3 separate regions of the Homo sapiens genome follow, and all the other regions are linked to region 1. Evidence: fine-mapped expression QTL. A gene starts in region 1. Each other region holds a variant in brackets. All regions are shown on one strand. Distances are between the middles of the regions. Region 1 holds the start of PTBP3 (polypyrimidine tract binding protein 3). Region 2 overlaps PTBP3 (polypyrimidine tract binding protein 3). Region 3 has its middle 37 kb from the start of SUSD1.

Region 1 (11,176 bases):
CTATGGTTATTGGTTCTGATACAAAGGGCAAATCATGCTCCGACTTGAACTTCCAAATGAACTTACCTTCCAGTCAGTATCTGTATAACTGCCTTGCATATTCAAACCAATAAACCCATTACTACCTTTAAAACCACAAATAGCGTGAAGGGAGAGTAAACTTCTTAAACACTATCAAAAAGTAAGTTTGCACTTCACAGTTATCCTACAGTTTAACAGCAAAGACGCAAAATTCAAGAGTCCTCTTTATTATAACTATACATTTTACGACACAAAAAAATAGCCTGCTTCCATTATTTAAGTCAAACCTTCCAGACAATTAACTACACATAATGAAATGCTAAATTCACAGCCTGCCTGAACCAAAATATTAGTGACACAAATCTTTACGACCACAAAATTTTTCAACATATAAAATGCAACTGAATAAGGTAATGTGAAATAAGTTTTCAACAATGTTCTCGAAGAAACTTCAATCAAACAATAAAAACAGCTTCAATTCCCCCCCAAAATATATACACCTACTGTGTACCCAAAAAAGTTATAATTTTAAGAAATTTTTTGAAGCTTCAATCAAATAAAAATAAAGAACATCACAATCATGAATAAAATCTAAAACTCCACTTTGATGTCTGTAGCAGTGTGCAATCTGCATTCAAATGAATCAATCCGAAATGTCATATACACTTAATATTGTGAAACTAAAATAAATGAAATCTAATGAGGTCAAAAGCTGTTGGAAGATTTCATCTTCAAATAGCATATCATCAACTGTATGGCAACATGTGAACGACTTTTACTGTTCTAGCAAGTTGCATATATTCCACAACCTCACAGAAATCTTGTCATCAAAAGTAGGTAACAAGCTAAAAAAAACCTCAAATACATAATGGGAATAAACCGAGTTGGAGATTTTTTTTTAATCCGTAGGTACAGATACTACAACCTTCAATTAATTCACCAAAATCCTAACATAGTTGTTACTTTAATTACCAAAATATGTCAAGTCCCACCCCATATCCCTGAGTCCCCAGAGAACAGTTTATATACATAGACTCTAAATCTTTTTATTTTGGTCACGGACCCCCATTAAATTTTTGAGCATTTGAAATGCCCCCGAAAATCGCTCGTACATCATATTTTACATACACGGGCAGATAATTCATTAAGTTTCTTGGGGAGAGAGAAAGGTGAGGGGGAAGCGTCCATGGTCACTAAGTCCAGACCCCTGGTGTCGAGAAAGCGTTAACGTATCTCACAGCACAAGTCGGGAGACCTCGGCCAAGTCCCGCGGCGGCCCTGGGACCCCGCGTGGGACCATGGCTTGCGACCAGGTCGCCGCCCAGACGTGTACCGACGCGTGCACCCGCCGTCGGCCGCTCGCCCCACCTCGCCGGTAAACAGCAACTCCCCCGGCAGGAGGACGCCCGCCCCGCGCGCCGCCTCCGCCTCCCCCAGCGCCGCGCACCATTTTCTGAGAGGAAGTGTCGGGAGGCCGAGCTGGGCTCCCCGGACTCGGGGCGCGGAGGGCGGACCTCGGCACCGCGGCCGGACCGGGCTTTCCTCTGCTCCCGGGTGTGTCGAGTAAGGCTAGGAAGCAGCGGACGTGTCCGGGGCGCCGCGTGGGGAAAGGAGAGCCTGCGGCGGACGGCAACTCCGCGATTCCGGGATCCCCACCGAGACGCCCGGAAGCCCCGCCGTCGGGCTTGGCCGGGGCCGCTCCTCCGGCCGCCGGCGCCGCGCACTGCTCCCCAGCCCTTACGCGTCCCGCGGAGAGCCGGGTGGAAGCGGCGCCAAGGCAACCCGGTGCGGCCGCCGCGCCGCCTAGTACTTACCCATCCATGGCCCAGATGGAGGCGCGCACAGAGCAGGGACTGACGGGCTAACCGCGAGCAGAGGAAGCAGGCGGCGGCAGCAGGGCGGTTCCGGGGACAAGCGAGCTTTGGCTCTGCGGAGCCCCGGCCGGTCCGAGGTGGAAGGAGAGTGGGAACAGGGGCGGGGACCGGGCACGCTCCCGCCACCGCCGCGCCCCCGCCTTCCCCACCCCGCGAGCGCGTCCCCGCCTAGCCCGACCCCGCCCCCTCACCGTCCCCGCCCTCCCTCGGGGCCCGCCCCTGCGCTCGCGCCCACCCTCGCCCCGCTGGCAGCCGGCCTCCGGCTCAGCTCTGGGGCGCCCTCTTCCCGCGGTCGCTGTAAGACCCCGCCTCTCGGCCCCTCGGCCCGGCGCGCGCGCGCGCCCCCAGCCTCCCTCCTGCGTTCGCGGGAGCGCGCGCCTTGTGCTTCCCGCTCCGCCGCGCACCCCGCCCGCCCTCCCGCGGCCCCGCGGGCCTTCCGGCTTCGCAGACCGGGCCTGCCAGGTTTGAATGCCTCCCTCTGCCGGCAGGAAAAGCTATGGGGACCTGACTCCCAAGAGTAGGAAGGAATGTCCCACAAGGACCCCAGAAACGAGGTGGAATTGCCCCGGGTGCGCGAGGCTGTAGATGACACGTCCAGGGACCAGCCTCTGGCAGCCCGGCGCTGGAGTCGACCGCTGGGACCGACACCAGCCCCATAGGTGTGGCTGGGACGATGAATGAGGTGAAAGAGGCTGCCCGGACTGGAATTTGTATACAATTTAAGTATCTGAGTGCATTTCGACCTAACCGTCTAGTATTGAATTTATATGAAAAATTCATTGTACAAACATGGAATGGCTATATTCCCAGCATTTTTTAAAAGTTTACTCATTATTCCCTTTTTTCAGATGAAAATACATATACAAAGAGAGTGATTTGCTCACAGTTTCACAACCAGGAAACGTTTGCACCAGAGCCCTTCCCTCTGGTCTGAGCAAAAAGTATATATATAATATAACGAGTGACAACACGCTTGCTTTTTTCCCTTTTTAGTGAGAAATTGAGTACTTTTTCAACTCACAGATCACCAAAATGTAACCCCCTAAACTGTTAAGCCAAATTCTTAACCTACTGAGTAAAAAAGAGCGGGGCTCCTCCCCGTGGCTTCGTCATTTGAAAAGCAACTAACAAGAACCTCAAACATCTATCCTTGCTAATTTCCTGCTTTCAGATCAGTAGGTGCTGCTAAAAAGATCTAAACTGTGGACTCATTCATCATTCAGTCAGTATTAACCTACTATGTGCCGGGCACTGCATGAATACACAAGAAAATCAGGTTCCAGCCGTCACTGTTGAATGGATTCTTCAGTCCGTTTATGTATATTTTTGACATACAACTTTTCAAATAGGTAGAGTAATTCGGTGAGGTAATTCTTAAAGTCCTGTATCTAACCTCAGTCCCCTTCCAAAATGTCAAATACATTTTGTTTTGTATATTAAATCTAAATATTAAGTTGCATTTGTAAACATTGCCAGATGGAAATGTAGAATATCAACAAGATAAGTAGCTGATGCAGTCTTTCTATCACTGTATTTGGGATATATTCTGTTGATGAAATTTCCTTAACCCTTTTTTTAGCTACACAAGTAATATCAGCATAAATGCTCATTTTGGAAAATTCAAGCACTATAAAATATTGAAAAGTTATCATTAATATTTTTCTTCCCAAACCACCCCCTGCCCATGACTACCACTGTAACAATTCTGCGTGCATCCTTCTGGACCTTACTTTTTTTTGTTGTTTGTTTTTTTGTTTTTTTGTTTTTTTGTTTTGAGACGGAGTCTTGCTCTGTCTCCCAGGCTGGAGTGCAGTGGCACAATCTGAGCTCACTGCAACCTCTGCCTCCCGAGTTCAAGTGATTCTCCTGCCTCAGCCTCCTGAGTAGCTGCGATTACAGGCGCCCGCCACCACGCCTGGCTAGTTTTTGTGTTTTTAGTAGAGACAGGGTTTCACCATGTTGGTCAGGCTGGTCTCGAACTCCTGACCTTGTGATCCACCCACCTCAGCCTCCCAAAGTGCTGGGATTACAGGTGTGAGCCACCGCACCCAGCGACCTTTACCATTTTTCTTTTTTTTTTTTTTTTTTTTCACCTAAAAATCCTGGATTATAGCTGGGCATGGTGGCTCACACCTGTAATCCCAGCACTTTGGGAGGCCGAGGCGGGCAGATCACTTAAGGTCAGGAGTTCGAAGCCAGCCTGGCCAACATGGTGAAACCCCCCATCTCTACTAAAAATAGGAAAATTAGTCTGGCTTGGTGGTGCACGCCTGTAATCCCAGCTACTCAGGAGGTTGAGACAGGAGAATCTCAACCCGGTAAGCAGAGGTTGCAGTGAGCCGAGATCACACCACTGCACTCCACCCTGTGTGACAAAGTGAGACTCCAGGCTGGAGTGCAGTGGCACAATCTCGGCTCACTGCAACCTCTGCCTCCCAGGCTCAAGCAATTCCCCTGCCTCAGCCTCTGGAGTAGCTGGGATTACAGGCACCTGCCACCCTGCCTGGCTAATTTTTGTATTTTTAGTAGAGACAGAGTTTCACCATGTTGGCCAGGCTGCTCTTGAACTCCTGACCTCAAGTGATCCACCCACCTCGGCCTCCCAAAGTGCTGGGATTATAGGCATGAACCACTATGCCCAGCCTCATAATTTCATTTCATAATTTAACCTTTTCCAAAACAGTGGAAATTACGTTGTTTCCAAGTATTCAAAATAACTAACACTATTGCAGAAAATATCATGAATGTATGAGTATCTTTGCACACATATTATTACATCTGAGGAATAGATCCCTAGAAGTAGAATTGAGAAACAAAGGACATAAGCCTTAATATCCTTTATATAATTCAACAATCCTTTATATAAAGCCTTTATAGCCTTTATAATTCAAATTTGATAAATTTTTTGAAAATGATTCCAAAAAGGCTGTACCAATTTACAGTTTCTTTATTTAAAAAAAAAAAAATTTGGCTGGGCATGGTGGCTCACACCTGTAAATCACAGCACTTTGGGAGGTCAAAGCGGCAGCATTGCTTGAGCTCAGCAGTGTGAGACCAGCCTGGGCAACATGGTGAAACCCTGTCTCTATATTTTTATAAAAATAAAAATAAATTATTAAAGTTATGTCTCTCTTACCCTTTGCTTTAAGCTAACAAATTTTAATATTAAAAAATAGCAGAGCGTGACCCCTATCTTTGCTATTCCAAATTTCAATATTAAAAAATAATACAGGAAGACCCCATCTCAATAAATAAAGGTAAATATAAAGTGTGTCCGAAATTTATTGTTCATACTAACAATAATTCCGAGAAGTCTGCAATGTAAAAACAGTGCACCTGACTGAAATTAACAAAACTGTTTGGCATTTCCTAAATACTCAATGTCCAGCTTTACAACAGAAGCCTAGATATAAGAAAACAGAAAACAGTTTACAACAAAAAAGGTGAAGCCTTAACTCTTTCCCCTGCCCCTTGGTTCTAAATTCAAAGAACTTTTTGTTTGTTTGTTTGTTTGTTTGGAATCAGAGGCTTGCTCTCTCACCCAGGCTGGAGTGCAGTAGCGCGATCTCAGCTCACTGCAACCTCTGCCTCCCAGGTTCAAGCAATTCTCCTGCCTTAGCCTCCCTGGTAGCTGGGATTAGAAGCGTGCACCACCACACCTAGCCAATTTTTGTATTTTTCATAGAGATGGGGTTTCACTGTGTTGGCCAGGCTGGTCTCAAACTCCTGGCCTCAAGTGATCTGCTTGCCTCCACCTCCCAAAGTGCTGGGATTACAGGCGTGAGCCACCGTGCCTGGCCAATTCAAAGAACTTATAGATTAAGCTCCATGGGTTTGTGAGTCACTTTGATTCAAAAATAGTAGGTAGCATAGAGTTTAGCTCCTCAAGAACCACTTTGAGAAACCTAACTGTTCCCATAGCCTACATGATGTGGAAGAGCCACAGCTTTCTATCATCTCCACAGAAGTTTCTGGAATCAGATATCTCAGATATCACCTACATGACCTGGTTTGACCTGAAACTGATGGGTTCTATATACTGGCTTCTTGATAGTGAAGAGAGTTACATTTTCTCTATTTGCTAATTGCTCTGTGCTTTGAAAAGGAAGACAGATACAAATAATTTAGTTTATAATTTTTCTAACATTTTCTCTTGTGTTTTTGTTCTGATTTGACTAAGAAATTCCCCTGACACACCTTTTTCTGATGAGAGACACCACCCCCATCACGATTATCTTTGGACAACATGTAACCTTTGAACACTTGCCTTAAGGCATTCCAGTAGGCAGTGGTTAGTTAACATTTAACCAACATAACCCTATTTCTGTTTACAGGTAAGACTTCTTAATATATAAAATAATACAAAGATGCCAAATAAGTCAGAAATAATACCAGCTATTAGGTGAATCTAGGAAGCTGGACATTTTAATATCATTCTATCCCATGACAAATACAAAATCATCATAATTAACATTGCATTTCCCAAAACAGAAACATCTGAAATTATACTAAATGAAAAAAGCCAATCTCAAAAGGTTACATGCTGTATGATTCCATTTCTATAACATCCTCAAAATGACAAAATTATAGAGATGGAGAACAGATTAGTGGTTACCAAGGATTAGGAAGAGGGTGGGAGCAGATGGAAGAGGATACAGACAACTGTGACTACAAGGGAGTAAGAACGGGGATATTTGTGGTAATAAAACAGTTCTGTGTCTTGATTATGGGGTGGTTATACAAATCTACACATGATAAAATTGCATAGAACTTTAGATAAACACATGCATGAAAAAGTGACAAAATCTGAAGAGAAGTTATGGATTGCACTGTGTCTGTGTGCTGCTTTTAATAGTGTAATACAGTTACTAAGATGTTACTATTGGGGGAAACTGGTTGAAGGGTACACAGGACCTCTTTGTACTTATTTTTTAAATTTCCTGTGAATCTACAATTATTTCAAAATAAAGAAACCTTGGCTGAGTGTTCCCTTAATATTTGTTGTTATTTGTTCAATAATTAAACAATAACAAACATCAAAGGCTTAAGCAAAATGGCATGTGAGTATAATTTATAGTTTTCAGGCTGTATCACCTTGGTAGTCAAATAAGGTTGTAACAGCTGACACACACTGACTCTGACCGACTCTGCCCAGTCTGTTGAATTATGAGCCTTTCTTCAAAGTCCTTCCCAACTATTTGAAGAGGCGGCATGTAAGTGTCTCCTACATGCTCACTGACTTCTCAGCAGCTATGAATCACGTCCATTTTTGTCATCCCATGCCTGGCCCTGATGTAATCATCTCCACATGAAGTTCTTAATATGGCCAGTGCCTGGCACAGAGGACTCATGTCTATGCTGAAGGTGCTGTCCCTTGTCACTGTCCTATAGTATAATTTGCCAGCCCATGCCAAAGTTGCATTGGGCTTTCTGGAGCACTTTTCTGAAAAGGGGAGTATTCCTCTCCCTGTTTTTTGTCATACTATATCACCTAGGTTCCAGTGTCTCCCAGAATTTTTAATGAAACAGCCTTTTTTATTTAAATTCACAGAAAATCATCCTTTAAGATTTAGGCAAGGGCGAAATGCCGTCTCTACTAAAAATATAAAAAATTAGCCAGGCGTGGTGGCTCATGCCTGTAGGCCCAGCTACTCAGGAGGCTGAGGTGGGAGGATCACCTGAGCCCAGGAAGTTGAGGCTGCAGTGAGCTGAGATCGTGACACTGCACTCCAGTCTGCCTGACACAGCAAGACTCTGTCTCAAAAAAAAAAAAAAAAAAAAAAAATACAGGCGTGAATCCTAAGGGGCTAAGAAAATCTGAATGATAATCACTACAGTGATCTAAGAATCATCATTGCCCTTTAAAATTGACTTCTTTTTGTCCTTAAAACTGTTGTCCCCCACTCTCTATCCTGAGGATGAATTTCTTAACCTAGAAGTCTCCCAGACCCCACTTAGAAGTAAATCTCTTGGATTGTTGTTATTTTTTTTCTTTACCTTTATTTACTTGCCATTTTTATTTTTTTTCTTTTCACTCTTTTTTTTTTTTCTTTTGAGACAGTCTCACTCTGTCACCCAGGTTGCTGTGCAGTGGAATGATCTCGGCTCACTGCAACCTCTACCTCCCAGGTTCAAGCGATTCTCCTGCCTCAGCCTCCCAAGTAGCTGGGATTACAGGTACACCCCACCACACCCAGCTAATTTTTGTATTTTTGGTAGAAATGGGATTTTGCCATGTTGGCCAGGCTGGTTTCCAACTCCTAACTTATCAGGTGATCTGCCCGCCTCAGCCTCCCAAAGTGCTGGGATTACAGGTGTCAGACACCATGCCCTGCCTGCCCAGCCCAATTTTTAAATGATATAAATTTCTATCAGGATTATAACCATGACACTAAATGTTATAAAAATTCATATTTATTTAAACATGTTTATTTTTTATTTATTTATTTTCTTGAGACAGGGTATCGCTCTGTCACCCAGGCTGGAGTGTAGTGGTGCAATCGTGGCTCACTGCAGCCTCAACCTTCCAGGCTCAGGTGATCCTCCCACCTAAGCCTCCTGAGTAGCGGAAACTGTAGGCATGTTCCACCACCACACCTGGCTAATTTTTGCTGGTGTGTTCTTAGCAACCAGAACAATGCCTACTACATAATAGGCAGCCAATATTTTATTAATTGAACATGTGAAACAGCTTGTGCCTTGCAAAGACAATCTTCCTTTTGTTTCTGAAACTGTTTATTGTATTAATACTAAATTTGTATTTCTGGTAAACTTGCCCTATATTCTTCCTCAGCATTACCAATTCGTTATTTATTAGATCTTCATTCTATTACATATTTTTCTTTAATGTCTTGTGTTTGTTTTTTCTTAATATTTTATATGATTTTCTCAAGTCTATTCTCTCCAATCATAGTTCAGATTTCTGCAGTATTAGTTTGATTCCCTGCTATTTTAACGTGTTTTTAAATAACATAATAATTTTGTTTTCTCCTCTTCTCTTTCATTTGTTCTGCCAGCTTTTTTAAAATGTCATGTTATTGTCTTATCTATGTTTTAAAATCTCTTGTTTAGGGCCGGGTGCAGTGGCTCACGCCTGTAATCCCAGCACTTTGGGAGGCTGAGGCGGGTGGATCACCTGAGGTCAGGAGTTTGAGACCAGCCTCAACATGGAGAAACCCCGTCTCTACTAAAAGCACAAAATTAGCCGGGCGTAGTGGTGCACGCCTGTAATCTCAGCTACTCAGGAGGCTGAGGCAGAATTGTTTGAACCCGGGAGGCGGAGGTTGCGGTGAGCCGAGATCGCGCCATTGCACTCCCGCTTGGGCAACAAGAGCGAAACTCTGTCTCAAAAAAAAAAAATAAATAAAATAAAATAAAATCTCTTGTTTCATGGACTCCATATTTAATTATCCAAAGAGGATAAAGAAGTATTTTGTCTAATGTTTTCTTCTTATCCGTTTTTGTTCCTCTTTAAAAGTGTAATTTTCATGTTTTTACATATTATATTCTTCTACTTCATTTGGGTGTTTTTGTTTTGGTTTGGATTTCTTGTGGGGTTTTTTGTTTTTGTTTTTGTTTTTGGCAAGATCTCTGCTAGAATTTGTTTTGTTTTGTTTGTTGAGTCAGGGTCTGTCTCAAGTCGCCCAGACTAGAGTGCAGTGGTGTGAGCTCGGCCCACTGCAACCTCCACCTCCTGGGTTCAAGTGATTCTCCTGCCTCAGCCTCCCGAGTAGCTGGGATTACAGGTGCACACCACCATGCCTGGCTAATTTTTGTATTTTTAGTAGAGATGGTGTTTCACCATGTTGGCCAGGCTAGTCTCGAACTCCTGACTTCCAGTGATCCGCCTGCCTCGGCCTCTTGAAGTGCTGGGATTACAGGCATGAGCCACCATGCCTGGCCTCTGGTAGAATTTTATTCCCTTGTTTGTATCCGGCAAGAAAAGTGTTTTTGTTTTTCGTTGGGTGTGTGTGTGTGTGTTGTTGTTGTTTTTGTTTTTGTTTTGAATGATGGCAGTACTACTTTGATCTGCAGCTTACTAAAGAATAGTGTGAGTTGAGGGCTCACAAATCTCATCTCAGCTTTTCTGTGCGTTATTGATTTTTTTTGTTTTTGTTTTTAAGTCACTTGTAGGTCTAGATATCAATGGTTTATATTCTTGTTTCATCTTTCAATTACTTGGTGGGGATGGTGAAGTGGGAAGTGACTGTGAAGTGACTCCAATAAGTAGATAGCCATCAAGTAAGGTGTGCTTTCTCTCAGAAACTTCACAAAATTCTTTACATAGTTCTGCTAAATATCCACATTTGGTTTGGTTTGTTTTCCCTGAATTCCTTTAGAATGACTAGGTCCCTGTGATGGCTAATTTTAGGTGTCAACTTGCCTGCTTTAAGAGACAACAAGATAGCTGGTAAGGCATTATTTCTGGGTGTGCTGTGAGGGTGTTTCTGGAAGAGATTGGCATTTGCATCAGTGGACTGAATGAGGAAGATCTGCCCTCACCCAATGTGGGCAGGCATCATCCAATTGGCTGAGGGCCTGGATAGAAAAAAAAGGCAGAGGAAAGGCAAGTTTTCTCTCTTCTGGAGCTGGGACACTGTTCTTTTCCTGCCCTTAGACATAAGAACTCCAAGTTCTCCAGCCTTTGGACTCCAGGACTTGCACCAGCAGCCTTCTAGTTTCTCAGGCCTTTGGATTTGGACTTAGACAGAGCCGCATTACTGGCTTCTTGGGTTCTCCAGCTTGCCGATGGCCTATCATGGAACTTGGCCTCCATAAGTCTCCTCTCATATGTCTCTGCGTGTGTGTGTATCCCATTGGTTCTGTCTCTCTAGAGAACACTGACTAATACAGTCGTCTTCACAGAAGCCTGAATATACTCTATAACATATAATATAAGAGGTTAGACTGGACACAGTGGCTCACGCCTGTAATCCCAACACTTTGGGAGGCCGAAGTGGGCGGATCACTTGAGGTCAGGAGTTCGAGACCAGCCTGGCCAACATGGTGAAACCCATCTCTGCTAAATATACAAAAAGTAGTCGAGCATGGTGGCACACACCTGTAATCTCAGCTACTCAGGAGGCAGAGGCAGAAGAATCACTTGAACCCAGGAGGCAGAGGTTGCAGTGAGCCGAGATTGCACCATTGCACTCCTGCCTGGGCGACAGAGCGAGACTCCGTCTCAAGAAAGAAAAACAAAGAAGAAGAAGAAGAAGAAGAAAGAGAGATTAAAAATAAACGTGTAGGCATGGGCTGATATATATACTTTTGTTTACAAG
Region 2 (5,000 bases), 110 kb before region 1:
CAATAGTTACATCATTATCATACTAATGGCACTTTAAAAATTTAAAATGGAGACAAGTATTCCGAATTTGCTACCTTTCTCAGAAATAACACGATGGTGATGTAACTATTCTTTAAAAACTAAACATATACCATTTGTTTTGCAAAATGTGGGTGTTTATTTTTTGTAGAGATGGGGTCTCACTATCTGGCCCAGGTTGGTCTCAAACAATCTGATCCTCCTGCCTTGGCCTCCCAAAGTGTTGGGATTACAGGCATGAGCTGCTGCACCCAGCCATTTTTTAAATGAGTGAGAAATTAACTACTTTTGGTATGAAACATGCTTTGGCTAGAAAAGAGTCATATTAAAATGTATTATTAATACTTGATTTTATTACTGAAAATTACATGCATCAATCATTAATAAAAACTTTTATAGTGACTGCATATGAGCATGAGGAATTTCTCTCGGGCGTTGAAAATTTTCTAAAATTGGACTGTGGTGATGGCCACACAACTGTGAATTTACAAAAATCTTGAGTTGTAAACCCAAAGCAGGTAAACTGTATGGTTGTAAATTACATCTGAAAAAATTCCATTAAAAAAAACCTATCAGCCTGGTGTTGTGGCTTGCACTTATAATCCCAGCTACTTGGAAGGCTGAGGGAGGACGACTGCTTGAGCCCAAGAGTTTGAGACTACAGTGAGCTATGATCACACCACTGCACTCCAGCCTGGGAAACAGTGAGACCCTGTCTCTAAAACTATCACATTCAAAAAATTTGGAAGCAGTTTTCTATCTTATTTTAAAAATCTTACAAATGAAGCATATCAGTGAGTTTTAACTCTATTTGTCAGACATATTCAAACACAACAGTTTTCAAGATCCACTGATTTACGGGGAAAAAATCTAACTTTTCTAGATAAAACATGACAAAAATTGGTGGATTACATGAAAAAAATAATGAAATAATTATTGAAGTACAGCAACAATGAAACCCCTGCATTTAGATTATATATATTTATGATTTATCTTCTTCAGCTATGACAACCATTAAAATCAAGTAGTGAAATAATCTACCCTTGGATTACTGAATCAAAATGAAAACAAGGATTTTTAGTAATATCAAAGCATATTAATCATACTGCTCATTAGATGTTAATCATGTTTTATGGAAAAATAAACTGTCCTTAATAAAAATCTTTAAAATAGTAAATATTGCTTATTTCATTGTTCTCATATTTCTATGCTGTTCGAAAGTTTGGAGACTATTTTTAAAACCTGAATCGCATTATACCACTCTCTTGCCTTAAAATTATTCAATGGCTTCCGATTGTTCTTAGGTAAAAACCAAATTCCTTAACAAAGCTTTTAACAGCTCTTCACGATTTTGACCCTACGCAGCTGTCCACCTTCACCAGGTCTCCATTATGCTTGCCTATGCTCACCACTGGGCTTCCTTCACTTCCATGCACCAGGACCCATCTCTCCCCTCTCCCCTCCCCTGTGAAGACATTGCCCTCCCTTTCTGCCTGGCTGATTCTTACTCATGTTGAACAAGTCAGCTTAACTATCATTTCTATTGAGTCCCTCTGCTAGGTTAGGTCTCCCTGCGTTACACTCCCTTTACAAAACCTATATTTCCCATACTATAAATCATCACTGTAATTACTTACTAAGTCTTATTCACTGTTTTATCCTCAGTGTCAGCACAATACTTGGCACACAGAAGTAATCAATACATATTACTAAAAAAGTGAAATGTGCTCAATTCACACCTGTAGACAATAATAAAATAGCAAAAATGAACTTACCAAATAGGATAAAAAGCCCATGTGGTGTGATAAGCTGTAAAGGGTAACACAAAGTTAAGTGTCTGACAATTTAAGTAAAAATTGAAAATAAGTTTATTTATACTGTAATGGCAGTTGATTTTATTTTAAAGCATGGTTTTATATGCTTCTTCCGTATATACTAGTGATGAATTTTAATAGAAGTTCTTAAAACAAACTTAAGCATTTTAATTTGAATACAACCCTGGATCAGAAGCTACCATGGCTAGGCATGGTGGCTCACACCTGTAATCCCAGCACTTTGGGAGGCTGAGGTGTGTGTCGCTTGAGCCCAGGAGCTTGAGACCAGCCTGGG[C/A]AACATAGCAAGATCCTGTTTTTACAAAAGAATTAAAAAAAAAAATTAGCCAGGCGTGGTAGTGGGCACCTGTAATCCTAGCTACCTGAGAGCCTGAGGTGGGAGGATCACTTGAGCCCAGGAAGCAGAGGTCACAGTGAGTGAATGCAGCACCACACTGAAGCCTGAGTAACAGAGTAAAATCCTTTCTGAAAAGAAAAGAAGAGAAGAGAAGAGAAGAGAAGAGAAGAGAAGAGAAGAGAAGAGAAGAGAAGAGAGAAGAGAAGAGAAGAGAAGAGAAGAGAAGAGAAGAGAAGAGAAGAGAAGAAAAGAAAAGAAAGAAAGAAAAAAGTGCTACTATACCTTCTCCTGAAAGACTATTTACATATAATACTTTTCAACTCACATCAGGATTGAGATTTGTGACGAGTAGAACAGAATTTCCTGGTATACCACTAGCCCCAGGAATGGCCATCCTTCCAGTGACAGCAGAAGAGGTGATTGTGAGAGGACCAAGAGCTCCAGGAACAGCTGGAACTGATAGACCTTTTAAAAATACCAAAAGCATTTCATATTCTAATTATTTGAAGAACTGTAACACTTGATACAATTTAAGTAAATAAAGAGGAAAGGAAAACTACAGAAAGAAAATGTGTCAAGGCTACCATAAAGATACTGAAGGCCAGTTTTCTGCCCTACAGAGTCTGTCTGCAAGCTGAGCTCCTCATCTATTGACATTACTATACTTAGTGCTCTATTATCCACACAGTACTCTGCAGAGTAACTGAACTCACTGGGCCTAACGCTATTAGGCTTTTCAGAGGGTCTATCAACTACAAACACTCCCTCTGTTTCTTACAATAGATATATCCTAACACCCTTCTATCAAGTGTATATGCTTTTCATACTGACTTCTACCATAAAATCAGATATGTATTTTTTTAAAGTCCTTCAGCAGAAAGTCAAAAACATGCATGCTAGGTAGTGCTATATGACATTTTATATGGGAAAAACATTTTGTGACTGTATAAAATGCTATATTAAATATTATTCTGACCAAAATAGATATTTACAGAATTCAATATTCTTTTGTAGCAGAAATGTTCTGAGCTCTCTACTTCTCTAGGTACTATGGAAATCCTGAAAGCTCAGTAACAGCAGAATACTGACACTATACTTAAAACAGCACACTTTCCCACTATTTTGTGTTCTCAGCTTAAAACCTGTCTAAGGTAAAACCTCTAGTTTATGCAAAATGAACCAATTCCTTAATTTAATGACTCTTTAAAATAAACAGTCTGACCACTTCACCACAAATCATGTAATTAAATTATAATATATTTTACATTCAGCCTATTCTGCTTGATAATCTAAGAAGGTCATAACTACCATCATCCATACTGCTGAATTTTAAAACTGTGCAGACCACATTCTCAGGCTGAATACTACTGCACGAAATCAATAGCCTTCACATGACATATTCCCATGCCCCTCCAGTCCAACCCTGACTTTTGCATAACTTTTGCTGTTTGTATGTCTGTTATTCATGAGCTAAGAGCACAGTTGAGCTACACTGTAGGGTGTGTGTGTGTGTGTGTGTGTGTGTGTGTGTGTGTGTGTGTGTATCTTCTATCAGCTTAAAAGTCTTATCAAGTCAGAAGCCCTCTTTTATTCACTTTTCATCTTTCTTAATATTAATTAATATTTATATATAGAGTATATCTAAAAGAAATATCCAAAATGAGGGAAAACATATCAAAATGTCCACCAATTGTTAAACCTTGAGGAGCTTCAAATAAATAAACTATGTTTTTAACACAATAGGTAGAATATTCACTTAATTAAACATATGTTAAGATATACTAAAAACCACCAAGATGGTAAAATTTAAAACCTCAACCTTCATATCACTCTTTCTGTTAACTCCATCCTCTCCATCAAAAAGAGAGTAGTTATTGGCCAGGTGCAGTGGCTCACCCTTTAATCCCAGCACTTTGGGAGGCTGAGGCAGGCTAATCGCTTGAGGCCAGGAGTTTGAGACCAGCCTAGCCAACATGGCGAAACCCCACCTCTACTAAAAATACAAAAATTAGCTGGGCGTGGTGACATGCACTTCTAGTCCCAGCTACTCAGAAGGCTGAGGCATGAGAATCATTTGAACCCAGGAAGTGGAGGTTGCAGTAAGACAAGATTGCACCACTGCATTCCAGCCTGGGCAACAGAGTGAGCTATCTGTCTCACAACAACAACAAAAAAAAGAGAGAGAGAGAGTAGTTAAAATTCCCAGAATTCAAAGGTTAGAATATAAAGATTACTGCCAGAAAGCAGCTATGTTGCAATTTAAAATGTAGTTAAAGTCATGAATCAGTTTAAGTTGGAAATATGTGGAGTAGGCTTACCAAACTCTGTCATTCCCCTAATCACCAACCTCAGTGTTTTCTTTAGACACCAGAGATAAAACCATAAAGTAACATTTTCTCTTTTCCTTAAATTATAATCAAATTCATTTTGTTTACTGTTTTGAAAATAATGGGAATCATTATCAACGTATTAATCAACTCCTATCTCTTAATTACCTCCATTAGCTAAAGAGACAAAATATATATCCCCTGAAATAAACAGCATGCATACCCCTCTATCGTAATCTTCAAAACCCATTAATGACAAAAGGTTTTCCAAAGATGAATAGTGAATGTATAGTATGACTGCATATTATTTGTTGAGTACTGTCAAAGGCATTGAAGGCCCAAAGATAAGACAGGTCTGTTCAACACATAATTGATAAGTTTATCAGTAAAGACAGAGCAGCTTATACATTTTATATAACAACTGGAAAGGCAAATCTAAGGTTATTTAATGTAGTTAGCCTATAGTTATTTGTGCCAAAAGCAAAC
Region 3 (11,176 bases), 120 kb before region 1:
TTTGTTTTAATCTAAATCAAGTTACAGTTACCTTGGCAAGCCATTTCTTTTGATTGGGTGATTTAATCTATTTACATTTAATACTATTCTTGATATACCATCAATTCTCATTATTCACAATTCCTTATTTGTGAATTTTTCCTACTTGCTAGAAGTTTGTAATTCCTAAATCAACACTTAAGGTGTTTTCATGGTCATTTGCAACATGCACACAGTGGCAAAAATATTTGAATTGCTCAACATATGTGTTCCCAGCTGAGGCTGAACAAGGTGACACACAAACCTCTTGTATCAGCTCTCATACTGTAAACAAGCGTCCTTCTTGTGGTCTACTTAGTGCCAGGTTTTTTGTATTTTTCTTGGTGATTTCACAGTTTACAAGAGCCCCCAAGAGCAGTGCTGCAGTGCTGTTTAGTGTTCCAAAGTGCAAGAAGGCTGTGAGGTTACTTGCTTTTAGCCTGAACTTTAGTATTTCTTCTAAAGAAGGGCTGCCAACATTAAATTCTCTCAGTTTTATTTTTCTGGGGAAATCTTTATTTTATCTTCATTCTGAATCACAGCTTTGCTGGCAATACAATTCTTGGTTGACAGTTTCTTTCTCTGAGACTTTGAATGTCATCCCACTACCTTTTGGCCTCCATTGTTTCTGCTAAGTGAGCCACTAATTCTACTAGGGTTCCCTTGTAAGTAATGAGTTATTTTTTTCTTGCTGCTTAAAGATTTCCTCATTGTCTTTGACTTTCGACATTTGTCCTATGCTGTGCCTCACATTTCTAAGGTTCTCTTCATTCTTTTTTCTCTGTTTTTCAGTGTGTCTAATCTCTATTAGTCTGTTATTCTTTCCTCTGTCAGTTCAAACCTATTGTTGAGCCCTTTGGTGAATTTTTTGGTTATTGTGCTTTTCAACTCCATAATTTCCATTTGGCTCCTTTAATAATCTCAATTTTTTTGTTGATATTGTCTTACTTGATGTGACATTGTCATCCTACCTTCAATTACTTCTTTAATCATGGCTCCTTTTAGTTCTCTGAACAGGTTCATAATGGCTACTTTAAAGTCTTTTCTGATAAATGCAACATCTGGTTCCTCTTACTGTCAATTTCTGTTGTCTGCTTTTTTTCTGCTGTTTGGGTTGTACTTTCCTGTTTCCTTGTGCTTTGTAATTTTTGGTTTAAAACTAGATATTGAAAATCATATATTGTAGTAACTCTGGTTGCTGGTCCCCCCTTCTCTGGAGCTTATTATAATGTGCTTATTTATGTAGTAAACGACTGGATTATTTTAGTGAAGTCCCTTTTCTCCAAACTGTGTTTAGCCACTAATGTTGTTCCTTCAGGAGGTACAGCACTGGGTATGCCCACAGTCACTCCGGAATCAGTGGGTTTGGTGGGTCTCTCCTCCTCTTTTCACTGACCCCACCTACCTGCTAAAACCATACTATTATCAGATGATTGCTCTAGTGTTTTCAACAGTACCCTGGGAGCACAAACTGCTCTAAAATTTATACAGTTGAATTCTGGCTTCTTCAACTGAACAATTTTTTAGGTCAGTGTTTGATTTTTATTCTGACCCCAGGAGGATTCTTCCAGCTATCTTATTCCCAGTTCTCTCCTGCAAACCAGCCTTCTACAGTTTAACCTGTATCTTGAATATTCTCCCAGTTGCCTTTTATCACACCTCACTGACCTTGAGAGTGCTTTTAGACTTGAAATTATTCACTCTGCTGCAATAAGCTAAATTCCTTCTGAAAGAGATGAAAAGCTATCTGTTTTATGGTGGGTTTCTCCCCGCAGGTACAATCTCTGAGCCAGGGCACTGGAGCTGGGAAAGGGAACGATGGTAAGCTTCTCTCTGAGTGACATCCCCACTCTAGGGGCTAAGCCCTTGATTGTGAGGGAGGTGTTAAAGAAAAAATTATTCTGACACTTGTTAAGATGAGAAAGAAGACTTTCTTCAGAATGATCCCGATAGGTGTCAAGATAATTGAGGCTGGGCGCAGTGGCTCACGCCTGTAATCTCAGCATTTTGGGAGGCTGAGGTGGGTGGATCACTTGAGGTCAGGAGTTCTACACCAGCCTGGCCTGGCCAACGTAGTAAAACCCTGTCTCTACTAAAAATACAAAATTAGCCAGGGATGGTGGCAGGCATCTGTAATCCCAGCTACTTGGGAGGCTGAGGCAGGAGAATCACTTGAACCTAGGAGGCAGAGGTTGCAGTAAACCAAGATCGCACCATTGCACTCCAGCCTGGGTGACAGAGCAAGACTCCGTTCTCAAAAAAAAAAAAAAAAAAAAAAAATTATTGAGATAGAAGAGATCAGTCTCAATTACAAACTCACGAGGAACAAGTAGGGATTTATAGGCAAGGAGTAAGTTGGAGAAGGGTTGTCAGTAGATGGAAAATTACTAAGAGGAGACAGAAATGAAGGGTAAGGGAAATTCTTGCTACATTTACCAAACAGGATTCTTGCTTAAGTCAGGTCAGGTTGATCAGATATAAAGGGTCAAGGGGATTCTTTTTAAACTGCCAGGATTCTTGCTAAAACTGGGCTCTTGAGGACAAGGTCCAAGAATGAGGCCTAGTCTAAAAAAGTTTCTAAGCCTGGCCAGGTGCAGTGGCTCACACCTGTAATCCCAGCACTTCGGGAGGCCGAGGCGGGTGGATCACAAGGTCAGGAAATCGAGACCATCCTGGCTAACACGGTGAAACCCTGTCTCTACTAAAAATACAAAAATTAGCCAGGTGTGGTGGCAGGCGCCTGTAGTCCCAGCTACTTTCCCAAGTAGCTGAGGCAGGAGAATGGGGTGAACCTGGGAGATGGAGGTGGCGGTGAGCCGAGATCACGCCACTGTACTCCAGCCTGGGCGACAGAGTGAGACTCTGTCTCAAAAAAAAAAAAAAAAAAAGTTTCTAAGCCTGACTAAAGTTTGGGTAAGGAGAGAGCCTCTGTCAGTGCAGAGCAGCTGGGGTCCTCTCGGCTTGCCTCTCTTGCCATGGAACCACCACCTCGCAAGCCAGGACCAAGGCCCCATTATCTTAGCATGTCATGCCTAAGGAAGCCTCCAGTCCATGAGTGGGGTCTGGGTGGAATAAGAGAGCCTCAGCAACAGGTGGCTACGAGCAGGATGAGAAAAGCTGTGGTTCTGCTATTCCCAGGACGAAAGCCCTCTGTGAGGGGATGTTCTTGGCTGCAGCAGCCTGTCTGGGGGCCTGGATAGAACAAAAGGGCAAGAAGAAAGGCAAATTTCCTCTCTCCTAGAGCTAGAACACCATTTTATCTCCTGTCCTTTGGCATCAGAACTCCAGATTCTCTGGCCTTTGGACTCTGGGACTTGCACCGGCAGCCCCCTGGGTTCTCAGGTCTTTGGCCTTGGACTGAGAGTTAGACCAGTGGCTTCCCTGGGTTTTGGGGCCTTCAGACTTGAATGAGCCACCCCCTACTGGCCTCCCTAGCCTGCAGACGGCCTGTTTTAAGACTTATCAGCCTACAATCACATGAACCAATTATATCTACCTACCTACCTACTTATTTATCTATCCTACCTGTTCTGTCTCTCTGGAGAACCCTGACAAATCCAAAGCCCTAGTCCACAGTACCTCAAAATCTGACTGTATTTGGGAATAGAGCTTTTAAAGAGGTAAAGTACAATGAGGCCATATGGGCAGGCCCTACTCCAATATAACTGGTATCCTTTAAGAGGACATTGGGACACAGACTCACACAAACCAAAAGATAACCAACCACGTGAGAACATAGGGAGAAGGTGGCCATCTACAAATCAATGGGAGAGGCCTCAGAAGAAACCAAACCTGCTGACTGACACTTTGATCTCAGACTTCTACCCTCCAGAATTGTGAGAAAATGAGTATCTATTATTTAAGCCACCCAGGTTGTTGTATGTAATTTGTTACAGTAGCCCTAGTAAACTAATACAATGTACACGGAACTATTTTGGCCTCCTTGGGACTGCCCATATATGGGCAATCTATGCTTCTGGGGAACATGATGGAAGAAGTTATGGTTATCACACAAATGTACAGGTCAGAGACAATAAACTTTGGTGAGGGTATGGATCTATGAATCCATACGCTCAAATACAGTTGTGCTGTTGGAGTTTGTCACTGAATTCCCGAAGCCCTATATAGACAGCAGATGTTTTTGTAGGTTGAGGCAAGGCTCCATTTTCCTTCTGTATATGTTCAGCTCTCTGGGTATTTCATTCATCAGATGGCAGCTTGGCTTAGAGAAGGTGTTGGTCTGTATTAACGCAATGGCTGCCACCAAGTCACTACAAGCACTAGGGTTCTATCAATGATGATCTAGCTCAGTGGCTTTGTCATGGGGACTGCCAGGGGAAAGAATCTGGGGCTGGTTCCGTCAGAAGCTCCTACCAGCTGAAAGGAAATGGCAGATATTCAACAGATAATCTACTGTATGCTGGTCTCTGCATGGGTATTTTATTTCTTATAAAGAAGATCCTGCTTCTTACTAAATAGGGGTTGTCACTAGAACCCTGTAATCTCTTCAATCTTTATGCCCTTATTTAAAAGAATTTAGAATAAATTCATTCTAACAGTGAGCTAACATCATAGACCAAGCACACAAACTAACAGTTAATTCTGCAGCCCTGGGAACTTTTTTTTTTTTTTTTTAAATGACAGAGTCCCGCTCTGTCACCCAGGCTGGAGTACAGTGGTGCGATCTTGGCTCAATGCAACCTCTGCCTCCCAGGTTCAAGCGATTCTCCTGCCTCAGCCTTCCGAGTAGCTGGGACTACAGGCGTGAGCCACCACACCTGTCTATTTTGTATTTTTAGTAGAGACAGGGTTTCACCATATTAGCCAGGATGGTTTTGAACTCCAGACCTCAGGTGATCTGCCGGCCTTGGCCTCCCAAAGTGCTGGAATTGCAGGCATGAGCCACCGTGCCCAGCCAAGAACTATTTTTTGAATAAAAAAACTGGAAGTGTTCTGAAAATACAAGGATAGTCTGCCTGTTCTAGAAAATCTGGGGCTGGTAGCTACTATTCTTGGACCATATTGAGAGATGGTTAAAAACATTAGATGCTCAAAAAATCAGGTAAATTATTTAGATTTAGTTTGCAAGCTAGTCCATGTTGCAAGAAAGGACATACCAGTGCTTTCCATCTTTATTATAATGTTCCTTGATGGCATGGCTAGACTTTTACAACTTTGGATCCTCTGGCAATGCATATATCTGTCAAATCAGCCCACACTAAAGCACAGCAATAAGAGGCATGGGGGTGAGGGAGCGATCAGGACAATCCTAAACCTTGGCATTTTTTCCAGATGAGATCGGGTGCAGTCAGGGTAGTATGGCATGCAGACATTTGTGTTTTTTTCAAAGTAATTCCTACCTAAATAAGTTTTTGTTCCTACCTAGTTATATTTCATTCTCAAGTTCATATATATTGTTTCTGTCATAAAGGATAAATGTGCATTGAAAATTCATAGGATATATAAGGCAATCTAAGACAGCTATGATTAACATATCAAGTCACACAAAATAAGAAGTATAAAAGAAGCATAAAATAAAGTTAAAAATGAAATGAAACACTAATAAATGAAAAAACAAACATTGCGGAGGATCAAAACACATGAAAAACAGGTTATTTGAAAATACTTCTGCAAGATGGCTCAAGAAAAGGAGAAAAGGCACAACTGAAAAACAGTAATATGGATATACAGGCTGGGCGCGGTGGCTCACGTTTGTAATCCCAGCACTTTACAAGGCTGCGGCAGGCGGATCACTTGAGGCCAGGAGTTCGAGACCAGCCTAGCCAACAAGGTGAAACCCGTCTCTACTAAAAACATAAAAACACAAAAATTAGCCAGGCGTGGTGGTACACGCCTGTAATCCCAACTACTTGGGAGACTGAGGCACAAGAATTGCTTGAGCCTGGGAGACGGACATTGCAGTGAGCTGAGATTGTGCCACTGCACTCCAGCCTGGATGAAAGAGCAAGACTCTGTCTCAAATAATAAGTAAATAAATAGTAAATATAAACAAAAATAAAAATGGGTATAGGCCGAGTGCAGTGACTCACTTCTGCATACTCAGCACTTTGGGAGGCCAGGAGTTTGAGACCAGCCTGGGAAACACAGCAAGACCTCATCCCTCCAAAAACAAGAAGATATAATTACTGATAAGGCAGAGATTTAAAAACATTATAAACTTTAACCAATATGTTTGAAAACTACTATATAAATTAATAGTTAATAATCTACCCAGTAGAAAGGGAGAGGGGCAGGAGTATAGAAGATACAACGCAGAATATGAATCACGTAAGTTAGGTGACAGAAACAAAGTTTCATTATATCAGTCTTTCAATTTTACAAATGTTTGTGTTTCCATAAAAACAGGCTTTAGAAAAAGGCAAACTTTTGGAGGAGAATAGGAAACAAAAAAAACCCAAGCATTTATTTTGCCTTTCTA[C/T]AGAAGCTGTACCTCAAAGTAATGAAATAGCTGATATGGGGGTTTCTCTTATATAGAAGAAATCCAACTAATACAAGCAAAAGGAATTAGAATTATAGCTTTACCATCTTGCAGTCCCTAAAAATTAATGGATCTAGGCAATGATCAATGGATACTGCCATCAAAAGAAAAGCCACATTATGGAAGTATCCAACGCTATCAATGAAGTATTCTTACGAAAAAAAAAAAAGGTAGGGGGGAAGGGGAGGCAGGGAGAAAGAAGAGAGAAAACAGAATCTGAATGAGCTCTTCTCGATTTACATGTAATTGGCAAAATTCAAAGAGCTGTTTCTTCAACAAATAAATTACAAAAAAAAAAGGATGGAGAGGGAACCTGTAAAAGCCTTTATCAACTGCAATGTATGGACTTCTATACTGAAATGTTTACAGATGAAATTATATGATGACTGGGATTTAAAAGAAATCCTAGGATAGCCAGGTGTGGTGGTGCATGCCAGCTACTCAGGACGCTGCGGCAGAATTGCTTGAACCCAGGAGGTGGAGGCTGCAGTGAGCCAAGACCACACCACTGCACTCCAGCCTGGGCAACGAGAGACTCTGTCTCAAAAAATAAAAATGAAAAACTAAAAGTAATCCTAGGAGTGGGGTAAAGAACAGATTAAACAAAATTGGCCACTAGTTGCAGTTGGGTACTGGGTAAATGGGAGTTCATCATAGTAATACTTGTGTATTACAAATCTTAATTTTTGGCCAGGTGGTGGCTCATGCCTGTAATCCTAGCACTTTGGGAGGCCAAGGCAGGTGGATCACTTGAGGTCAGGAGTTCAAGACCACCCTGGCCAACATGGTGAAACCCTGTTTCTACTAAAAAATACAAAAATTAGCTGGGCGTGGTGGCTCATGCCTGTAATCCAAGCTACTTGGGAGGGTGAGGCAGGAGAATTGCTTGAACCAGGGAGGCAGAGGTTGTAGTAAGCCAAGATTGTGCCACTGCACTCCAGCCTGGGCAATGGAGCAAGACTCCGTCTCAAAAAAAAAAAATCTTAACTTTTATAAAGTCTTCTCTTAGGATGCTAGAGATCTAGGTAGGTCTTTCTGGCTTCTTTTGATAAAATATATTAGGAGGCCAGATGCAGTGGCATACTCCTGTTATCTCAGCATTTCAAGAGGCTGAGGGGGGAGGATCACTTGTGTCCGGGAGTTCAAGACTAGCCTGAGCAACATAGTGAGAACTCGTCTCTACAAAAAATAAAAAATTAGCTGGGTGTGGTGGTGGGTGCCTATAGTCCCAGCTACTTGGGAGGCTGAGATGGGATGACTGCTTTGAGTCTGGGAGGTTGGCTGCAGTGAGCTATTGATGGCCCCACTGCACTCAGCCTTGCCAACACAGTGAGACCCTGTCTCAAAAAATAAAAGGGAAATATATTAGGGGTTAGATGTCAAACAGCTCACCAGATCAGTTACAGTGGCAAAACCAAAACTAAAACACATTAATTAAATCTTTCTGAATCTAGTTGGATGTAAAACTGTTCGGAAGGGTAAAATTTACTTGAAAACATGTTTTTTTGTTTGTTTTTTTTTGGTCAGTGAAATATTTTTCCTGTAGATATGCCGTGGTCAGGACAATGCAATATATGCACATGTAAGAGTTTCATGTTGAAACTCAGTCCATGGTATCTTGGGTTCTTTATAAGAGGGCCTTACTTATTGGCTAGAATAATCTGCTGACTTAAGAAAAGAATTGGTTGCTAGCTCCTTGCTCAATTATAATAATTTTTGAAACACTCCTGGGTAACTGGTACAAAGTACATTAACCAGATACCAGAAACCCCTCCTCATACTCTTTCAGTTACCTCCTTCCCAAAGGTAACTATCCTGTTTCTGAACTTGATGTACATAAAATTATATAGTGTTTGTACGTGGCTTCCTTTGTTCAGCATCACATCTGTGAGATTCTTCCATGCAGTGGAATGAGCTTCATTTTGTTCAGTTGCATTACTATATTCTACTATAGAACTCTATCATTATGAAATCTATCCCTAATAATGCCTTTTGCCCTAAAGTGTACTTTGTCTAACATTAATGTAGTTAATAACAGTTTTATTTTGAAGACAATCTCTTAACAGGTTAGAATGTGACATTTGTATTCTGCAGGAATAAGGACTGAGCAGATAATTCTCTAATTTTAGGCACAGAATAATGATAGAGATGCTTATCAAGTGATTAGAGGGCAATTTATTCCAAAAGAAATATTGAGTTTTTCCTGTTACCCTGTCTATATCCTTAGAACAAATATAGGGGTAAAAAAATTGAGAAGGCTGGGCACAGTGGCTCACCCCTGTAATCCCAGTGCTTCCTACTGTAATCTGAGAAGGGAGGATCGCTCGAGCCCAAGACTTCAAGACTAGCCTAAGGAACAAAGTGAGACCCAGTTTCTACAAAAGTAAAAAGTAAAAAACTTAGCCAGGCACATACCTGTAGTCCCACTTACTTGGGAGCCTGAGGCAGAAGGAAGGCTTGAGCCCAGGAGTTTGAGGCTGCTTCAGCCTGGGCAACACAGTGAGACTCTGTCTCAAAACAAAACAAAAACAGAAAGAAAAATAAAAAAATAGACATTATGAATCTGCTAGGAACATTAGAATCATTACTTTTCTGGTTTCTTTATACTAGTAGAGTTGGAAACTCTACATCAGAACCCAGTGGCTCCAGAATGTGGTAATTCCAGCAAAATTATTACTAGAGTTTTATCACTTCAGCATAAACTGTTTTGATAAAAAACACACAAAGGAAAGTGATGAATTCCCATTATAGGTTGAAATAGACAACAGGAAAAAAAGCTTTGATGTAGAAACAGTAAGACTACAAATAGGTCTATCACTCCTAACTATACCTAACCCAGCATCCCAGTTCATTTATCACAAATGTTAGACATTAAATACTGGGCACAGCTTGTCTGACGATGTCCTCTTATTTCTACAATTGTTTTTTTAAGTAATGGCATTTGTCTTAGAAATAATCATTGCTCTGATATGGCTATTTATCTCTAAGAGTAAAAAGGACAAATTATGGCAGGGTCTATATTCCTACATATTCACAACTAGCTGTAGGATAGTTATAGCCATATGTATTCTGAGAAGTGCCTCAGAGAGGCCTCATGATCCATTTTTGGGGATTCCTATTGAAGGCAGGAGTTCAAAAGTAACGTGTTTAATTTGTGGATTTAGGCTGACATATCTACTACATTACACATTTCTAAAAGGTAAGTCACCACGTGCTTAACTCTATATTTTTCCCAACACCTAGCTCAAGTGCTGGTACAATCAGTACTCGGTGAACTGAATGAATAAAACAGTGCTATGGGGCTGAATTTTGTGTCCCCCTTCCCAAATTCCTACGTTGAAGTCCTAATCCCCAGAATCGCAGAATGTAACCACATTCAGAGACAGACTCTTTAAGGAATTAGGGTAAAATGAGATAATATGAGTAAGCCCTCATCTTTGACTGATGTCCTTATAAGAAGAGATTAGGACATGGACACACTCAGAAGAGCGAGCTTGTAGAAGGCGCAAGGAAAAGACAGCTATCTACAAACCAAGGAAAGGCATTGGAAGAAATCAACACTGCTGACACCTTGATCGTGGCCTGCGAGCCTCCATGAACTGTGAGAAACTCATTTCTGGTGTCTAAGCCACCTAGTCTGTGGGACTTTTTTATGGCAGTCCTAGCAAACTCATACAAACAGTAACTACATTTTTTGTTAGTTTTCTGAAATTTAAAATGTGAAACGACATTAAAAAATTTTTCAGAAGTAGATAAGGCATTTTTACCCTTCATCAGAAACATTCTCACCACTTACTCAATGTCTTTACGTTGCAGTGAGGTATGATCATGTGGCTTTTAGGAGAAAACATAAGCACTCCAATACTGTGTACAGATCTTCAAGATCATAACCTTAGCAGCACTTGGAAGTCTGAAACTGCAACACCTGGGTGCAATAGAGTGCACTGGACCAAGTCACAGAGACCTGGGCTTCCTTGCTGTTAACTGGAAATTGAACTAGGTGGTCTCTTGGGTCACTGACATGACTTAATGATGGTTATAACCCCTCTGCTGAGTAAATAAGCATTTCACAGTCAATCGAGTTTATAAAAGCCTAATATAGTCATACAGTTATTTTATCTTTTCCTGATAAAAATGCCTCATGTAAAAATACCTATTTATTTTCCCAGTATTTATGGAGACCACAGATTTTACAGGTAAGCCAGCAAAGATTAGTAGTGATTACCTAATTTTCTATTCCATTCAAAATAAATTCCCACTTCCAGGAGACTAAAATATACAATGAACGCTAAGTCTAGACTTCTGCAATCCAACAATTCTTTAAAGATCTGAGAAGTAAAACGTTTGTCTAAGGAAAAGGAATGTAGCATCAGCTAGTATCTGTGCTACCTTTTTAAAGAGGACACAAATTTGGTTTGAGATCACACCTTGTGTCTCAAAGTGTATGTATACTAATGCCGTAGGGAAGCCAAATACTGAACAAAACTGGAAATAGTGTTCCAACTGTAGTTTGGCACTGCACATATGGGGAGAAAGAGAGAAAGAAAAAGGAGAGTGAGTGTGCAAGCAAGAAAGCATGCCGCCATGCCCCTGCATTACGGGGCAGTGCCAGAGAAGGTGCATCATAGGAAGATTAGGAAAGCACTTTGCTCCTCAAAA

Evidence for each region. PIP is the estimated chance that this variant, and not a neighbour inherited with it, causes the effect.
Region 2: its variant is fine-mapped to the expression of PTBP3 in whole blood (TOPMed, PIP 0.98).
Region 3: its variant is fine-mapped to the expression of PTBP3 in cerebellar hemisphere (GTEx, PIP 0.96).

The regions. Positions count from the first base shown.
Region 1 is chr9:112,331,635-112,342,810 of GRCh38, forward strand. It overlaps PTBP3 (polypyrimidine tract binding protein 3), which reads right to left and starts at 1,985. Exons shown (of 14, transcript NM_001163788.4): 1 at 1,836-1,985. RefSeq lists silencers at 1,350-1,839, 1,990-2,309, enhancers at 2,059-3,029, 5,902-6,401, 6,080-6,224 and a cis regulatory region at 6,145-6,158.
Region 2 is chr9:112,229,587-112,234,586 of GRCh38, forward strand. PTBP3 (polypyrimidine tract binding protein 3) reads right to left here. Exons shown (of 14, transcript NM_001163788.4): 9 at 2,513-2,652; 10 at 1,794-1,827. Among named protein-coding and RNA genes, the nearest start is that of SUSD1, 57 kb to the left of the region's middle. The variant C/A (reference allele first, on the strand shown) is at 2,128.
Region 3 is chr9:112,207,054-112,218,229 of GRCh38, forward strand. It overlaps a transcript of PTBP3 not described here. Among named protein-coding and RNA genes, the nearest start is that of SUSD1, 37 kb to the left of the region's middle. The variant C/T (reference allele first, on the strand shown) is at 6,458.